Linked DNA regions of Homo sapiens. The protein of the gene in region 1 interacts with the protein of each later gene in a biochemical or structural test. Each region holds a gene or a part of one and is shown on either strand. Other genes may lie near its edges.

Evidence for each region.
Region 2: the proteins of TTC27 (region 1) and DAPK1 form a complex in vitro, tested with the Homo sapiens proteins (one large-scale study listed by BioGRID and IntAct).

What each region holds. Positions count from the first base shown.
Region 1 is NC_000002.12:32,809,364-32,813,181, reverse strand, and holds part of TTC27 (tetratricopeptide repeat protein 27), read right to left. Parts: intron 2,159-3,818; coding exon 1,961-2,158; intron 679-1,960; coding exon 567-678; intron 1-566.
Region 2 is NC_000009.12:87,633,794-87,637,611, reverse strand, and holds part of DAPK1 (death-associated protein kinase 1), read right to left. Parts: intron 1-3,818. UniProt on the Homo sapiens protein: Calcium/calmodulin-dependent serine/threonine kinase involved in multiple cellular signaling pathways that trigger cell survival, apoptosis, and autophagy.

The DNA.
Region 1 (3,818 bases):
TTTAACTGGCATTTTTAAAAATTAATAACTAAAAGCAATGCTTATTTGGACTATATTTACCCAACAGGCATATAATTTTATATGTAAGGTTAAACCTTTCCTCAAACAATATCCTCTACCATTTCCCAAAGATAAGGCTTTTATTTTATATTTCTTTTGTATATGCTACAGCTCTGCATACTGCTATGTACCCCAGAGATCTATGTGTGAGTCAAGTTAAAATTAACAGATTTCCTTAATGCTATGTAATCAATACAGTGAAACTCAGTGTGGAATGAAGGTTATACAAAGTTGTAAAGATGTTTCACATCTCTAAAAAAGTTTCCAATTTCTGTTACTTACTCCAACAGAATATAAGCCTCTATCCTGTTTCTTCTTCTTATTTCAAAATGCCTATTACATAGTAGGTGGTCTATGAATGTTTGCTGAATTAAATACAACAATGTCAATATAATGAAATAATTTGATACTATTTATAATGGAACTTTACTTTTGACCAACACTCTTTTCTGTCAGTAGAAAATAAGTCAAAACATTCCATGGATATCAAATGTTACATCAAATACCATGTGCAAGTCCTAAGGCTCTTTGAACAACTTCCTTAAATGATGTAATATCTTTCTCCCAACAATTGGACTGGGTGTCACACTTGTATGCCTTTGAGAGGCACTGGAATGCCTGAGGAAGGAGAAAGAACAACATTCAGAATAACAAGTAGAATTCACATTTCAAACTCTGTTTCCTGGAAGTCATATGGAACTAATTCCAATGTGAAAAAGCAGCATCTGTGTTGTACAGCACAGCGTCTATTACTCTCACCAAAGAAGGGGTGGAAATGCACACCCAACGGCAACAAGCCGTGGCAAGAAATCAAATGGATGTACCTGGATTGAGACACTTCCCTGTAACCAGAAAGATATAAAGGCCAGGTTTGGAAATCTGTAAATATACAGATTTTCTCAGCATTTGTAGCCATCAGTTTAAAAAACCTGTTTAGAGAATGAGGCATGAACTTGGTTAAAACAATGAAACTGCTGGTAGATATATGTAATCTCACAGATGTTTAATGCACCCTCTTTCAAATCCTTGAGGGAGAAGTCACAGGTCAGAGAATTCTGGGTACTCTTAATTCCATATATGCAAGAAAGTCCATAATTCAAGGAGAAATGGAAGGACATGAAAGTAGGGTGTGCATGTGTGCAGGTGATACACGTTCTCTGGGCTGACAAGGCCACGGTGGAAGCCAGCTGTGTGGATTGAGGGAGGAGAGAATGGCTAAGAATCCCACAGATTAGCTGTGCCGTGGCTAATTCCAAACCCACGCAAGGAGTACATTTGATTTGTTGTGGGTGTTTTGAAAAGAAACATAAAACAATTATTCCAACTTTGGAAACTCTGCAGGCTCCTTTAAGTTCTAAGATAAGAGGCTAAAGGCATAACTTGAGTGGAACTGGTGTTCTATCGCACTTGTGAGAAAGGGCAGGGCAACCTTTGTAAAAGTATTATGTTTTGACTTAAAAGTTCTCTTCCAAGATCTTTATCTTGTTCATTTTTCTCTTTTCTTTTCCTAATCCCCATCTCAGATCTAAATACTCCTTCTCTCCTTGTACCCATCTACTGTAGTCTTTAGCAAGGTGCCTGCAGAAAGGGGTATGGAGTAAATAACAAAAGCCAACTCTGCTGCAGATTTAGTAGGGGTGGCCATTTCAAGAGGCCCTTTTGCAGGAAACAGGGAACAACTATGTAAGAAAACTTCATGGTAAATAAAAAGATGAATGTTACAAGTTTTAACCAGCCCACAATTCAAAGTACGTAGGTTAAAGACTGAATCAGAACTGAACTTAAGCATACTAATCTTATCTTTCAGATTGTTAAACTCTTCCTCCACCCATCAAAAAAGTAGATCTACTACAACATGTTCAAACGAAAGGCAAGGACTCAGGAGGAATGAAGGACTTGCCTTTTCATTTTCATCAGGCTTTTCACTCTGCCCATTTCCATATACGTGGGCATACAGCCTCCAGATTTCTCCATCATTTGTCACTCTTGAAGTCACTCTGCCAAATAACTCCTGCAGCTTTCCTTTGAGGCCAGTTGCAACATCTCCACTTCGATCAGTCATCCCATCAATCACTGCCCTGACTAGAATTTTAAGGACCTTAAAAATGCACAGAACAAACTGGTAAGTTAGAAACCAACAAACAATAACAAAAACAAAGAGCTATCTCACCATCATCAAAGACAATGACAATGAAAAACCTTATGAAACTTGTTAAGAGTATCACCTTTAAGCTTTTGAAAAGCAAAATAAAATTCAATCCTAAAGCACTCTCTAGGATCTCATGGTGACTACCTCTCTGATGTCCCTTCAAAAGCTTCCAGAGAGGGTTCTTCTTTCATTCAAAGGGCCCCATGTTTGGTGCTTGGCTCTTCTCACCTGGAACATTCTCTCTGAATGATTGGATCCACACCTATAGCTTCATATATATTGCTGAGTTGGCTTCACTAGTGTCTATGCAGCTCCAGCCAGATTCCCCTCTGGAGCTCCAGGACTGTGCACCTCAATACCTACCAGACAGGTTACACCAATATCCCTCTCCATCTATCCAAAGTGAAACATAGATCTCAAATTGATCTTCTTCCTGTAATCTCTAGGTGAGCCTATCCACACAGTTCCCAAAGCCAATAACCTGAGCATCAACCTAGATTATCTCCCACTTCTGCCACAACTACTAATTTGATTTTCAACATTCCTAATGTTGATTTGTTTGATTTTCAACCTTCCCAATGTTTTCAACATTCCTAATGTCCTATTTAGGACAACATTGAAAACAACGTTGTTGAAAACAATCCTAAATACAGCTTCTCCTACCTAAGTTCAGGCCTCATTAACTTCCATCTGGGCTGCTATAATAACCTTCTAACTCCGCTTAAAGAGGTCCTAGCCCCTCCTAATTACTAAATGATGAACCGTTAATGCATTTGCATTAGGCATGCGAAGTATCTAGCAAGTATCTCTTCTCTTTCCAACTACCTCAGGTTGGCTCACCATTTTTTTTTTTTTTTTGAGACAGAGTCTTACTCTGTTGCCCAGGCTGGAGTGCAGTGGTATGATCTCAGCACCACAACTTCCGCCTCCCGGGCTCAAGTGATTCTCCTGCCTCAGCCTCCCAAGTAGCTGGGACTACAGGTGAGCGCCACCATGCCTGGCTAATTTTTGTATTTTTAGTAGAGATGGGGTTTCACTATGTTGGCCAGGCTGGTCTTGAACTCCTGACCTCGTGACCCACCCGCCTTGGCCTCCCAAAGTGCTGGGATTACAGGCATGAGCCACTGCGCCCGGCCTAACTTCTTGGCTATCTTATTATCATCAGTCAGCCTTTACACATTCTATCCCAGATGCTTTGAATGCTGACAGATGGATTAAACTGCAGTCTGCACCAGGTTATATTATAAAAAGGCACATCTGTCATATCTACATTAGGCTGTGTATCTGAAGGCACAGAAAACACAACCGCAATCTTCCACTCCTTTGATGGTGGGACAGCAAAAGAACCAGCTTGAGGAAAGTACTGTAACACCATGCTAGTCAGTGCAGTCCATGGACCGACAGCACTGGCATCAGAGCTTGTTAGAAATGCAGAATCCTGGATAAAAATGCTGATCCATCTTGGACCAAGATTCTGCATTTCCAACAAGCTCCCAGGTGATGCTGATGTTGACGGTCTGCAGGGCACACTTCGAGAAGCAAGGCTCCAAGAGACAGCTGCCCACATCTTTAATTTTACCGTGAACTGCAGGGAGAGGATGGCATTTTA
Region 2 (3,818 bases), on another chromosome or scaffold:
ATGACGAGAAAAAAATCTGCAAGCCAGCTTTGTACAGAATTTATAGTGTATATCTTCTTATTTCAATTAGAGAGTACCTGAAAAGTTCATAACTTGCATGTTTAATTAATTCTTTAAAACTCAAATTCACAATATATGGTCTGATAAGGGTTTTTTCCTCTCTTGTCTAGTATTGGTTTGTATGTAAATACTAACACATTTATAAAAATCACATTTAGTAGCCTGGGCGCAATGGCTCACACCTGTAATCCCAGCACTTTGGGAGGCTGAGGCGGGCGGATCACAAGGTCAAGAGATCGAGACCATCCTGGCCAACATGGAGAAACACCGTCTCTACTAAAAATACAAAAAACAACTGGGCATGGTGACGTGTGCCTGTAGTCTCAGCTACTCGGGAGACTGAGGCAGGAGAATCACTTGAACCTGGGAGACGGAGGTGGCAGTGAGCCAAGATTGTGCCACTGCCCTTCAGCCTGGTGACAGAGCGAGACTGTCTCAAAAAAACAAAAAAAAAGAATACATTTACAAAAAAAGCAAAATGTATGTTGTTGGTTGCGGATTTTTTTAGTTTATTTCTCTGTCCAGACTGTAAGTGGGTGGAGGGGAGTGGTCAGAACCTCCCACCCCAGCTATTGGCTACTGCTGTATGCCCCACTCCCCGCCAGAGCCAGGCACACAGCATGCATTCAAAACTTTATCAGGTGGATGGACGAACAAGCTCCCCTAAAAACTCCACGATAGCGATGAATGGCAAATAACAGGGAAGTTTTAATAAGAGTTTTTATAAGTTAATCTTTATCAAGTTTAACCATATATTCACAACATAATAATTAAGTGCAATTATGCACAAACTGCTGTATTCATTATCTCTCTTAGGGCAAGAGCGCTCCCCAAACATTATACCTTCCACATCTACATCCATTCAGAGTAAGAAAATTGGTGCTCATAAGATCAGATAAGAATGACAAAAAAGCTGTTTTCTTAAAAGTTTCAGATCCCACATGCCTTCACCCTCCAGGTCAGTGTTTTCCTTAGCACGGTCTAGAGTCCATGGGTATCAGAATTATTTGAGGATGCTTTAAAAATGAAGATTCTGAGCCTCACTTTCAATCTGCTGTGTGAGGGCTTCCAAGAATGGTGACCAGAAAACTCAGCATCTTTAACAAGCACCTGAAAAACTGAGACCATTTTCCCACGTCTTAATTCCACGCTCCTGCTGCAGGGCCTCCCACTGGTTTACGGGGATGGTGGAGTGACTCTCCTATCCCCAGGGGCCTGGCAGAGGTAGCCACACCCTCCTGTGAGCAGTCCACAGGCCTCCCCTATCCTCCAGGGGACACAGCAGGGCCTGGGCCCAGCCAGGACATCCAGGAGTCCAAGCGAAAGGTGTCCTACATGGACCCTGCCTCAGCAGTGGCCTTGCTCTCCTCCTGACCCTTCCCTGCACTCCCCACCCTGCTCTTGGGAGATGCAGTCTGCCCCCACCCTCTCCCCTCCCAGGTGTCCTTGGCCTCACAGCCCCCACACTGTCTGCCCACGGAACAAGGCAAGGCCTCCCGCTTCTCACTTTTGCATCTTATTCTTAAAACAAACAACGGGGAGAGAAAATCCTTCAACTATAGGGGGGAAAAAGTGGGAGATTGTGAACCAACCTCACCCAAAGAAAGCTCTCCCATCACACCTGGGTCTCCAGCCCTGGCTTCTGTGCTCTCTGGGGCGCCCCGCACCACTGGGCTGACTCAGGCACCGTGGCCACGTGATGTGGAGAAGTCAAGTGCCTGCATCCAGTCCAAGTCTTAACTTCTGCCACGCGCTCACCCTGAAACCCGGAAGGTTACCCCTTCTCTTGAGCCTCATTTCCCCAAAGAGGAGTCATAAGACCTCTTCCCTTGAAGGTTATGAGGATGAAAGGTAATAGACATGTGTAACTGGCAAGGCTGGCACGTGGGTAAGGTCCAGCTTGCGGGAACGAGTGTTGTTATAAAGAAGGCCACTGTCACCCCTGTAGCATACCACTGCTTCCTACAGGATCCAATATGAAAGCCCCTTCCTGCCCGCTCCTCCTCCTAAAACTGGTCCATTGGTTGAGCCTAACCACTGTGCTTCCCAGGAAGAAGGTGAGGGGAAGGAACTGAAACTTCTGCTGTGAATGTGGTGCCCAGCCGCCGGCTTTCTCTCCGTGGCCCTCTTCAGGGCCTCCCGAGCCCACCTCACTCGCATTCTGCTTGTGTTGTCTTAGAGTACAGAGATGCATTTTTCAGACAATGAGAAACGTCAGGAGTTTGGCTGCCTGGTTGGGGTGAATCTTCCAGCACCCACACAGCTGGCGCAGTCTGCTGGCCCTGAGTCCTTTCCAGGGACTCCACTGTCCAGCCTTCTGGCAACCCCATGCTGCCCTGGCCTCAGGCTTTGCCCGCTCTTCTCTGGCCAGCTTTCTCTCCCTCCCTGCCAACCTAAGCTTTCTTCAGACCCAGGATCTCCTTCTCCTGCCAGCTCCGTCTTCTGTGAGGCAGGATGGCAAAAACGAGGGGACCATGGTTCAAATCCTGCCAGGGCCTCCAACCTTGCTGAGCCTCTGACTCCCCTTCTATAAAATAAAGGGTAACATCATAGCTTACGGAGTCATCCTGAGGTTCCAGGACATGTAGCGACCCTTAGTGCTCAATAAATGCTGCTGTCTTTCTTCCCATGTGGCTTCAAACCAGAAGTCCTCCCATGGCAGCAGGGGTGTGCAGCAGGTTCTTTGGCGTTGGGGTGGGTAGAGCCCATTCCCGAGGTGTCACATTCCCACCATGGCCATCTCAAACTCCCTCCCCACGTGATGTCAGGGACCGTGGGTGGAGTTGGGGAGGGACAGGCACTGCAGCGGTGACCTGGGTGAGCTGGGATTGACACGGCACTGCCGAGCAGCCACCTGGCCTGCCATGGTGTTCCACATTTTTCCGAAGACGGTCTGACAGCATCTCATCCTCATGCTCTTCTGCACCGTGATTGTGCCATCCTCCTTCAGGCAGTGGGCGGCATCTGTGGCTCCATCTCTTGAATCTGGGCAGGCCCCATGATCACTTTGACCAATGGCACAAGTGATTTTGCCAGCCCTGCTGTGGCTTTTCATGGACTGGGGGCCTCCAGGTCCCACCTCCTGAAGCCCTCAGGTAAGATGCAAGAAGTACGACGATGCCAAACCACTGTGCCACGTGGAGAAACCCAGGAAGAAGAGATGTCCTTGGAGAACAAGGCCAAGGAGCCTCGAGCAAGGAAGGCACCTTAGAAGGGGACCCTCCAGCGCAGCCGAGGCCACAGAGGTCAGAGACTGTCCATTCAGCAACTGATCAATGAGGGAACATAACAGGGCCTGCCAAACTTCCATCAAGGGCAGATCCTAAATATTTTAGGCTTTGCCAGCCTTGCAGTCTGTCCCAACTACTCAGCTCTGCTAATGTATCATGAAAGCAGCCACAGATGACATGTACATGATGGGTGTGGCTGTGTTCCAATAAAACTTTAGTTAAAAAATAGGTGGCAACCTGGGTTTGGCCTATAGGCCATAACTTGCTGATCCCTGATATAAAGACTAGGTCATCACAGCCCAACCTGGGGCAACTCTCAAGGGTCATTCTGGCCCCAGAACTCCCTGTTGGCCAACTGGGGCTGCCACTAAACCCATTCCTGCCCCCTTCTCCTCTTCTCCAAATCTTGATCCTAAGTATAGTTCTTAATAAACACCATGCACACTCTTCTCCATCTCAGAGTCTGCTTCCCAGGGAACCCAAGCTACACCCCACTGGGTCTGGGATAGTTTTTTACATAGCCATAGA